Linked DNA regions of Homo sapiens. The protein of the gene in region 1 purifies or fractionates together with the protein of each later gene. This does not show direct contact. Each region holds a gene or a part of one and is shown in the gene's direction. Other genes may lie near its edges. The genes, in order: TPTE, GCN1 and ATP2A2.

Region 1 (3,751 bases):
AAAAAGAAAAGAAAAGTGGTTCATGATAACCCTCAAATATGTTGGCCTTTAAAAGACATAAACAACAGGCCAGGTGCAGTGGCTCATGCCTGTAATCCAGTACTTTGGGAGACCCAGGTGGGCAGATCACTTGAAGCAGGAGTTTGAGACCAGCCTGCCTAATATAGTGAAACCCCATCGCTACTAAAAATTCAAAAATTAGCTGGGTATGATGGCATGTGCCTATAGTCCCAGCTACTTGGGAGGCTGAGGCACAAGAATCACTTGAACCTGGGAGGCAGAGGTTGCAGTGAGCCGAGATCATGCCACTGCACTTCAGCCTGGGTGACAGTGAGACTCTGTCTCAGAAAACAAAAAGCAAATGTAAACACACACGCATAAACAACAGTATTGCAACTAGAAGAGATTATTAATAATTATTTATGTATGTAGTGATTGGGCTGTGAGACCAAAAGTACTTGATAAATACAGGAAGTCATGATAAGTGAAAAGGAACTTCATTGTTATCATTATCTAGGTTTATAGTTCTCAATTCCATGTGTTCATTCATAGGTACTTGATAACATTACAACAGACAAAATATTAATTGATGTATTCGACGGTCTACCTCTGTATGATGATGTGAAAGTGCAGTTTTTCTATTCGGTGAGTAATCACAAAGTAGCCTCTGCCATTGTTCTTGTCTGGTCTAATGATTTCATGTAAGATTTGCTTTACTACAATTCCCAACAAGGGAGGGGTAGGGGGAAGAAAACAATAAATCAGATCTATAACAAATTTTTTTAAAAGAGCGTATGTAATTTAAATAATTTTTGTTCATTTGTTTTTTTCTAAATTGTAAATTTTCTAAATTTTTCTAAATTTACATGTATTCTCAAATACAAAAAATACAAAATAAACACACACACAAAGTCAAGATGCTAAAAAAAAAAAACCCCAAAGGTATGTTTTACTGCATAGCATTGATTACATTTTGTTTTGCATCTTTTTTAAAAAATTAAGAAATTGAGACAGGGTCTCACTGTGTCACCCAGGCTGGAGTGCAGTGACGTGATCATAGCTAACTGTAGCTTCAACCTCCTGGGCTCAAGCAATCCTCCCACCTCAGCCTCCCGAGTAGCTGGGAGCACTGACTGGAAAGAGAGTTAGGTTTGGGTGACTCAGTTGGGTGAAACAGAGAAGGCAGCACAATACAACACATGAAATAACCGAAGCAGTTTTTTATTAATTCCAGAGAGAGGAGGGCAGCACACTTCGCAGGGCCAACTAGAAGGGGGAGCCATCCAGGAGACCTGTGCTCGACTGATGGGTGGGAGCAATAGCGAGAGAGAGGGAGGGACCTGAGAGTGGAAGCCTTTATTGGGATGTAAGGTGCTACCTGAGCAGGTTTCCTGCGGGGAGGTCTAATTTGGTTTAATGCAAGCAGCTATGAGTCTCTGCTGTGACTGAGAGGTGGTCACTGATATATCCACATGGTCCCTGCAGAGTATGGGGGTCTGTGGGGTGAGTCAAGTAGGTTATATTTAGCTGTCCCATAGTGAAGTGGTCATCATGAGAAGGTTGTGTAAGGCAGATATCAGGATCAGTCACATGGAGAAACTGGGAGGAGGTGAACGGGAAACTGCTGCGGGTGACTGAACCCCGCTTCTGATATCAGAAAATCCAATTTATAATTAAAAGGGATGCTGAGGCAACAAAAAAATTACAAGAATTCACTACAATGTAGTTGGGTATATATAGACATAGGTCCTTAGTAGAGTCTGTTTGGCACTATCTAAACCAGATTCAAATAGCAGCATTTAAATTAAATACCTATCATGGGAAAAATACTATTCCTTGAAAATTTTGATAGAAACAGCAAGAGAATGCAGTAGCATTTTCTTAAAGCCTCCTCCTTTGTGTCTTGAGTGTATTGTTATAGATTGCAGAGTGCCACATATTTAATGGTTATAATTGTTTGATAAATATAAAAAAGAATAAAGAAAGGAACTTCAATTTCTTTGGAATGATTAGTTCTTGGTATCAGTTTTACTTTGAAATTTTTTTTTCTTTTTAGAATCTTCCTACATACTATGACAATTGCTCATTTTACTTCTGGTTGCACACATCTTTTATTGAAAATAACAGGTATGAATATAATAGAAACCCATAGAAACAGCCTAATCTTCAATGTCTATGTATAAGGTGTAATGGCAAGTCTTTTGCTGGTTGTCATAAACTTAATTTATAGAAAGCAAAAAATCCTTGAACCACCATTGTTCCTTGCCTTACTCTTCTTACTTTGGTTATTTTAAAAATCCATTTGTTCTTGAGACCCACTGTTGCAGTATCCTCAGGGTCCATGCCATAGGACTGTGTTACGAGTTCAAAAGTATTATCATCAGATCTTAAGTGTGGTAGTAAATTCCTCCCAGAGAAGTTCAATATGAGGCTGCTCAGCACCTTCAATATGTCAGGTCCCTGTCAGTAGGTGTTGATTTACCAATGATGAACCACCATCAACTTTTGTGCTAAAGGAAGGCAGGACCTAGGGAGGCTTCAGCTAGCTGAAAAGCTGACTGACACACTTATATCTAGGAGAAGTCACAAGACACAGTATTAAGGAATACAGCTAAGAAATATCATTAAGTAATAGTCTATTTAAATAGCCATTCAAATATGGCTTTCTAATAACTGAATTGGGAAACCTTTCTGAAAAATTATTAATTGGATTTGGAGATTATTGTTCCAAAAAAACCTTCTGCCATATTTGGAAACTCATTTCTCAGTCTAGAAGTTCTCCACTGTAAGTAGCATTTGTTTTGTGATGGTGAAAAATTGAGACTTTTTTTGTGTCAACCATACTCTTCAATACAAAAGGACAAAATATTTTTTAAATGATTTAGGTCAGAGTTGAAGAAGTGGCTATGATTATATGTGGCATGAATTGATAGTTATTGTTACATCCAGTCCTAATCTTTTCTTCAAATGTGAACTGGATCGAATGATTCCTTAAGTCCAGCAAGGCAACAGGAAATTAAACCTCTGGTCTGCACACTTGCAATGCAAAACATTTAATGGATTTTGATAGAGTCAACTTTGTATTTGATGGAAATTTTTTACAAGTTTTTTTTTTTGGATGCATACAAACAATAAGCTTTTTATTCTAACATGAGCAAAGACCCTCAAAAAGTGAGACCTGGGTGGAGCTTCATTTGATGCTGCTCCTCAAAAGTGGTTCTTGCTAAAGGATACCATTTTTTTTTTCCTTTAAAACACTATGTTCATTTTGGAGAAGTGATAAGCTAGGTCACTTTTATTCTTATTTTATATAAATTTCTAAAGATTTCTGTAACATTTAAATTTACATCCTACTTGGTAAAGCTGTTTTTGTTATGAGATTGTTGTTTAGCTAAAAATGCTAACTTCTATCATTGAGAACACGAGGCATAAATGGGTTAACCAATTTATGCCTAGTGTTCCATTATTGGAACACTCAGCATGTGGGAGTTATATCCTACTGCTCAAGGTCATTTCCAAGGTCTGATTGTAAAAATTCAAAAAATTGCAACCTCACACATAAATTAAAAGAGATATAGTATTTTATTACTGGGCTTTCATTCATGTCTATCCTGACTGATTTCTGTCACAGAGAGAAATTTAGATATTTTATTAAACTTGGATGTCATTAATTCCATATAAAGCAATGCTAAGAGAGTCAGCATGTGTTACTGATGTGTTGCTGAAGATTAAAGTATTTTTATGTCTCAGT
Region 2 (3,751 bases), on another chromosome or scaffold:
CCTTCTACTGGCTGCAGGCGATCATCACTGCCCTGGGGGTAGAGCGGCGGAACCGGGTGTTGGCAGGGCTGTACATGGGCCGCTCAGACACCCAGCTGGTGGTGCGGCAGGCGTCCCTGCATGTCTGGAAGATTGTTGTCTCCAATACCCCCCGCACCTTGCGTGAGATCCTACCCACTCTCTTTGGGCTCCTGCTGGGTTTCCTGGCCAGCACGTGTGCAGATAAGAGAACGGTGAGTTTCCTGGGCCTTGTTTTGGACCAGCAGCCCCAGTGCCTCCTTTCAGAGCCTAGAAGGCTGGGTCTGCAGAGCCTGGGAAAGTACCCATCCACCCTGCCTAACAGAGGGACATTGTGTTCTTTACTTAGTCATTCTGCAAATATTTTTTGATTAATTTTATTTTATTTATTTTTTTGAGGTGGAGTCTTGCTCTGTCGCCCAGGCTGAAGTGCAGTGGCGTGATCTCAGCTCACTGCAAGCTCCGCCTCCTAGGTTCATGCCATTCTCCTGCCTCAGCCTCCCGAGTAGCTGGGACTACAGGCATCCACCACCACACCTGGCCATTTTTTTATATTTTTAGTAGAGACGGGGTTTCAGCACGTTAGCCAGGACGGTCTCGATCTCCTGACCTCGTGATGCGCCCGTCTCGGCCTCCCAAAGTGCTGGGATTACAGGCTTGAGCCACCACGCCTGGCCTCTGCAAATATTTATTAGCATCTCCTGTGCACTAAGCAGGGGCCTAGCACCTGGGGACACAATGGAGAAGAAAGGCAGCTTCATTCCTTATCCTCATGAGAGGTAGTCTAGTCGAGGAGATGGATATTAATCAAATAACCACACAAAGAGATGTAAAATGCGACTGTGGCCAGTGCTGCATGGCACTGCAAATGCTTATAATAGCTGCATTTGACCTGCTGGGGAGGGATGGGCCTGTGTTAGTGAACACTTCTCAGAAGAAATGATGCTGGAAGATGAAAGATAAGTAAGCACTAACCAGGTGAGGAGGTGGCGAAAGACCATTCCAGACAGAGGGAATAAATAATGTTTCAGATACAAAGACAGGATATGCAGAGGTCCCGTGGTGGGCAGGAACATAGCACCAGTAGGGGCTGAGCAAGGCCAGTGTGGCTGGAGTGAGGAGGCAGGGAGGAGCAGTGCGGCATGAGATCAGGCTGGCGCGCTGGCAGGGGCAGACAGATCAGTGGGCCTGGAGGAGGTGCCCAGATGGGCTGGTGATCATTTCTGCCCATCTCCTTTGGTCTACTTCCAACCCCCCATCCTTGGCAAGCAAATTGTGTATTTGGCTCTAAAGAAGGGTTTGCATGAGGTCTCAGAAAGTAGATGTTTTTTTTTCCTTAAAGCTTTGTTCCAGATTCGGCTCCTGCTCAGCCATAGCACAGTGTTAAGGCTTCAGTCATCCAGGGAAATTGGCCCTTGACTGTGCAGCAGATGATGAATTTTTTGTACATGTGTAAGGTGCTGCTGGCTCTTAATGTTAGGTTGTGTAGGTGTGTGTGAAACAGATAATTTTTTGGTAGTGTTTTGCAAGCACTACAGAGAGTATTTGGGGGCTCTTTAGGGGTAAGAGCATTTGGGGAAGTTAAGTCAGTGATTCAGATAAAGCCTGGGAGGTTTCAGGGCCCTCATTCTGGAGTCCTCCTCTGGGTGCCCTGGGCTTTGCAGGGACTTTACTTCCTGGATTGGTCTCTGTTGACAGATTGCAGCGAGAACATTGGGAGATCTTGTGCGGAAGTTAGGGGAGAAAATCCTCCCCGAGATCATCCCCATCCTTGAGGAAGGCCTGAGGTCTCAGAAGAGCGATGAGAGGCAGGGTGTGTGCATTGGCCTAAGTGAGATCATGAAGTCCACCAGCCGGGATGCCGTGAGTATCTTCCAAGGATCCCGCCAGCTGTGCACTGCAGACGACCTGACTCAGAGGGCGGGGGAGGGCTACTGAAGGAGGTTCACCTCTAGGGGGTTTGTGCTGCCCTCAGGGATGAGCCAGTCTCACTCTGGGGAGGTGCTGGCTGGGCCACATGGACTTGAGGCTCCGTCTTCTCAGCTTTCCTGTCAGTTTTGCAGGCTAAGAGCTAAGTGATTTGGATGCCTCCTTGAGTGGCCTTTGGAAACTGGAGATGATCGCTCTCTTACAACTGTGGAGGTTGCTCAGGATCAGTCTCTTTTGTGATGCTATATAAGTCCAGTTAAAATGTGTGCACCTCCTTCTGGGAAAGGGGATGGACAGCTGTGTGAGTGGGTAGGGCAGGAGGGTGCGGGAGGGGGTGTGCACTCACCCTTAGCAGGAGGGGAGCAGGTAAGAGTTGTGGTGCCAGGTGGGAGGAAGCATATTGCGTCTGGCAACAATACTGTTTCCATAGCAGCAACGTTCAAGGGGTGTGAAGTCCATTACTCTTACTTGGTTCCTGAGTTAAATGATCCTGGAGACCACCCTGGGGAGTAGGTTAGGAGTGCTTTTAGGCACTGCCTTCGTGTTTGGATGAAAACGCCAAAGCAATTAAGTGGATGGCCCGCTAGAAATGTAAGCAAGTGGCCAGTTGCTTGGCTTGGGCATCCTTGTCTGAATTCCTAGGATACCAGATCCCTCTTCTCCTATATTGATGTTTGTCTTACGTTTGGTTTTTAAAATTTACATTTGGCAAGGAATCAAAAGAAATTCTGTCATCAGAAAGAGTTGTGATTCATTGGAGAGGTAGAGTTCCACAGAGGCTGAGTTCTTGTCTGCAAAGTCCCCACAGTCCAATGGCAAGGCCCACATGCCAACCAGTCATTAGAATGCAGAGTGGGCTTTGCTGTGCTGGGATCGTTACTGAGGGAGCAGAGCCATTATTGGCTCCATTGTAGACCCAAAGACTTCATAGAGCACAAAGTCTGGATTGAGACTTGAAGAAGGACTTGGAGTTTTCCAAGAGAATAAGCAAAAGAAAGAGTCCAGGGAGAGAGGGGGCCAGATGCCATGGGAAGGAGTTTGCAGTTCTTAGAGAAGATGGGAGGTATATTGAGAATTCACCTAAAAGATTCAAGCTGTTGATTATTAAGTCTCAGTGAAGGATACATGGGGGTGCATCACATCCTCTCTGCTTTTTTTTTTTATTGAGACGGGGTCTTACTCTGTCACCCAGGCTGGAGTGCAGTGGTGCGATCATAGCTCATTGTAACCTTGACCTTCTGGGCTCAAGTGATCCTCTCGCTATGGCCTCCTGAGTAGCTGGGGACTATAGGTGTGCACCACCACACGTAGCTAATTTTTGCATTTTTAGTAGAGGTGAGGTCTCACTATGTTGCCCAGGCTGGTCTCAAACTCCTGGCCTCAAGTGATTCTCTTGCCTCCACCTCCCAAAGTGTTGGGATTACAGGCGTGAGCCACTGTGCGCGGCCCCTCTCTACTTTTTAATTTTTTTAAAATTTTTAGTTTAAGACAATCTCACTCTGCTGCCCAGGCAGGAGTACAGGGGCACCATCTCTTTTGGCTACAGCCTCTGCTTCCTGGGTTCAAGCGATTCTTGTGCCTCAGCCTCCTGTGTAGCTGGGATTACAGGTGTGCACCACCACACCCAGCTAATTTTTGTATTTTTAGTAGAGATAGGGTTTTGCCATGTTGACCAGGCTGGTCTCGAACTCCTGGCCTCAAGTCATCCGCCCACCTTGGCCTCCCAAAGTGCTGGGATTACAGGTGTGAGCCACCGTGCCCGGCCCCTTCTCTCCTTTTTTTTATTTCACAGTAAAGAGTTAAG
Region 3 (3,751 bases), on another chromosome or scaffold:
ATAGTTACTCCAGAAAATAATCAATGGGGATTCTACTTGAAAATTCACTTTTTTATTTTGGAATTGTGTTGATTTTTATCCTGACACCCTTTGTTCTGGTATTAATTTCCATTACTAAGTTTTCCCAGCTTACCTCCTTTGAATGAATTGGGCCTTTTGCCAACCTTTTCTCACACTAACAGTATCCCAAGAGTGGTAATGGGTGGGCATGAATGAGAGGTTCTAGGTTCTTGGTGTGGGTCGCAGAGATCTGTTTTTTCTGTCTCACAACCCGCTTAGGTGAATCTGTCTCTGTCATCAAGCACACTGATCCCGTCCCTGACCCACGAGCTGTCAACCAAGATAAAAAGAACATGCTGTTTTCTGTAAGTACTTTATGAAATGTGTTTTTATTTACAGACATTTCCAAAGCCTAATCAAATGTTATGTTTTTCACTGCCAACCATCACTGGCTATCATTCTAAAGGATAATCACACTTTTCATGGTCAGTCTTAGGTGTCAGAATATGGCAGTAACATAACGTGTGACTTAGATGTCTTTTAATTGGCAAGTTTTGGGGGACCAAAAAATAATGACTAGCTTATACATCTTCAAACTCTTACCTGCAAACATAGTTGAAAAGTAGATTTGTTTGGAAAAGCCTTAGCCAATAAAGGGTATTTTCAAAATGATGTAGATGACAGCTGCTATTTGTATGTGGTTCACAATAAAAAGGTGCGTGTTTAGAGAGAGAGAGAAAGCAAACATGGCAAACCATTAATAATGGTGAGTCTAGGTGCAAAGTATATGAATGTTCATTTTACTATTTCACTTTTTCTATTGATGTGAAAAATTCTTTGAATAGTGAGGAAATGATTTTAAGTTGGGGACATTTGTGGGTTTGTATGAGAACCTGACTACTACCCATAGTAAGTAAATAGAGGTACCCTGAAAATAGTGAAGCCATGTCCTTCTCTTATAACACTAGGAATTAAAGTGGCATGGGAGAGACTGCTCACATTTGATTTCTTTGGTTTTTGGACCCTGTCACATGAGTAGGGGTTGTCAAGATAGCCCATGGGGCTAGTTGCCGTTTCTATTACAGTGAGAAAAGTAGGGGCCTTGAGTTGTTGGAGCCAGAAGTGGAGAATGCTTAGAGTTGAACTATATGAGTTTGAAAAATTGGGAACACAGAGGGGTTAAGAGCACTGCTTGAAGATGGTCTGCAAGCCGGGCTCAAATAGAAATCTAGGTGGGTCAGTACAGAGCTGCCTGACATAAGTAAGTAGCACATGGAGCATTGCTTGTTGTCACAGTTGTATGGCTGGTTGCTTGAACAGTAGCCAGTGGAAGACCTAGTAGAATGTGTAGAGAATCTGGGTGCCCTAGTCAAAAACCAGCGTCGGTATTTAAGTTGGGATGTGGTATTCATCTTGTGACCAGTTCTCTACTTCTGTCCTAGGGTACAAACATTGCTGCTGGGAAAGCTATGGGAGTGGTGGTAGCAACTGGAGTTAACACCGAAATTGGCAAGATCCGGGATGAAATGGTGGCAACAGAACAGGAGAGAACACCCCTTCAGCAAAAACTAGATGAATTTGGGGAACAGCTTTCCAAAGTCATCTCCCTTATTTGCATTGCAGTCTGGATCATAAATATTGGGCACTTCAATGACCCGGTTCATGGAGGGTCCTGGATCAGAGGTGCTATTTACTACTTTAAAATTGCAGTGGCCCTGGCTGTAGCAGCCATTCCTGAAGGTCTGCCTGCAGTCATCACCACCTGCCTGGCTCTTGGAACTCGCAGAATGGCAAAGAAAAATGCCATTGTTCGAAGCCTCCCGTCTGTGGAAACCCTTGGTTGTACTTCTGTTATCTGCTCAGACAAGACTGGTACACTTACAACAAACCAGATGTCAGTCTGCAGGGTAAGAGGAGTAATTTAGAATATTCCGTGTCGTGGTTCTTTGTTCATCCTACCAATATGCCTTCATGCCATCAAAACTTTTGATTTGTAATTTCATACATTTCTGTGGGCTGTATGTATAGCCTGAGCTTAATTTCTAATATTTGAGAGGATCTAATCATTTAATTCCTAAAACTTTCACAAAATACAGGATATCTGTATGGCTGATATACTTGTATTAGATGTAAGAGAATTAGAGAAATTATATTTTCCTTTAATTAAAAAAAAAAAAAGCCTGGGCGCAGTGGCTCACGCCTGTAATCCCAGCACTTTGAGAGGCCGAGGCGGGTGGATCACCTGAGGTCCGAAGTTTGAGACCAACCTGACCAAAATGGTGAAACCCTGTCTCTACCGAAAAGACAAAAATTAGCTGAGTGGTGGCGTGCACCTGTAGTCCCAGCTACTCGAGAGGCTGAGACAGGAGAATTGCTTGAACCTGGGCAGCGGAGGTTGCAGTGAGCCAAGATCACACCACTGCTCTCAATTCTGGGCGACAAGCAAGACTCCATCTCAAAGAAAAGAAAAGAAAAAAGACAAGGTCTCATTCTGTTGCCCAGGCTAGTGTGCAGTGACACAGCTGTGGCTCACTTACAGCCTCAACCTCCCAGGCTCAAGTCCTCCCACCCCAGCCTCACAAGTAGCTGCAACCACAAGTGCATGCCACCATGCCCCACTAGTTTTTTTATTTTTTTTTGTAGAGGCAGGTTCTCACTATGTCACCAGGCTGGTCTTGAATTCCTGGGCTCAAGTGATCCTCCTGCCTTGGCCTCCCAAAGAGCTGGGATTATAAGCATGAACCACCACACTCAGCCTCCTTTCTAATTTTCCTGATCCTCTGTCTCTAGGTGTATGTTAATAGACAAGTTCTAGAGAAAGCTGCTAGTTAACCTCCCTACCTGAAGTCCTAATTGGTTTTTCTATCACATGTTGAATGAAGCGTGCTTTTTCTCAAAAAGTAGATAGTCATCTCTCTGTATTCATTAGAGATTGGTTCCAGGACCTCCCTCAGATACCAAACTCTGCAGATGCTCAAGTCTCTGAAATGAAATGGTTCAGTACTTGCATATAACCTTGTTCATCCTCCAGTATACTTGAAAACATCTCCAGATTACTTACAGTACCTAACGTAATATTATAAATGATATGTAAATAGTTAAACTGTGTTGTTTAGGGATAGTTAACCTGTGTTGTTTAGGGAATAATGACAAGAAAAAAATGTACATGTTCAGTACAGATGCAGTTATTTTTTCCATCTGCTGTTTAGTTGACCGTGGATGTGGAACCCACAGGTACAGAGGGCTGACTAAAATTGCTTTTAACTTGCTTTATTCTGTGTATTCATCATATATATTTTTGTTTGTTTGTTTGTTCTTGTTTTGAGATGGAGTTTCACTCTTGTTGCCCAGGCTGTAGTGCAATGGCCCGATCTCAGCTCACTACAACCTCCGCCTTCTGGGTTCAAGCAATTCTCCTGCTTCAGCCTCCCAAGTAGCTGGGATTACAGGCATGCGCCCCCACGCCCGGCTAATTTTTTGTATTTTTAGTAGAGATAGGGTTTCTCCATGTTGGTCAGGCTGGTCTCGAACTCGCGACCTCAAGTGATCCACCCGCTTTTGAAAGCCTCCCAAAGTGCTGGGATTATAGGCGTGAGCCCCCGCGCCCGGCCATCCTATATTTTTTGACCATCATTTGATAAAATAAATAATTTAAACCTGCTGTTAGAAAAGTAACAACTGAATAAATAATGCAATAATTATACAGCTGGATTATTTTGTATAATTCACTTTCCTTAGGTTTTGCTTAAAC

What was found.
Region 2: the proteins of TPTE (region 1) and GCN1 purify together in Homo sapiens (affinity purification with mass spectrometry; 3 studies listed by BioGRID and IntAct, with this or other methods). This does not show direct contact.
Region 3: the proteins of TPTE (region 1) and ATP2A2 purify together in Homo sapiens (affinity purification with mass spectrometry; 2 studies listed by BioGRID and IntAct, with this or other methods). This does not show direct contact.

The regions. Positions count from the first base shown.
Region 1 is NC_000021.9:10,601,506-10,605,256, forward strand, and holds part of TPTE (putative tyrosine-protein phosphatase TPTE), read left to right. Parts: intron 1-552; coding exon 553-645; intron 646-2,056; coding exon 2,057-2,127; intron 2,128-3,751.
Region 2 is NC_000012.12:120,138,989-120,142,739, reverse strand, and holds part of GCN1 (stalled ribosome sensor GCN1), read left to right. Parts: intron 1-17; coding exon 18-233; intron 234-1,716; coding exon 1,717-1,881; intron 1,882-3,751. UniProt on the Homo sapiens protein: Ribosome collision sensor that plays a key role in the RNF14-RNF25 translation quality control pathway, a pathway that takes place when a ribosome has stalled during translation, and which promotes ubiquitination and degradation of translation factors on stalled ribosomes.
Region 3 is NC_000012.12:110,326,111-110,329,861, forward strand, and holds part of ATP2A2 (sarcoplasmic/endoplasmic reticulum calcium ATPase 2), read left to right. Parts: intron 1-279; coding exon 280-365; intron 366-1,442; coding exon 1,443-1,907; intron 1,908-3,751.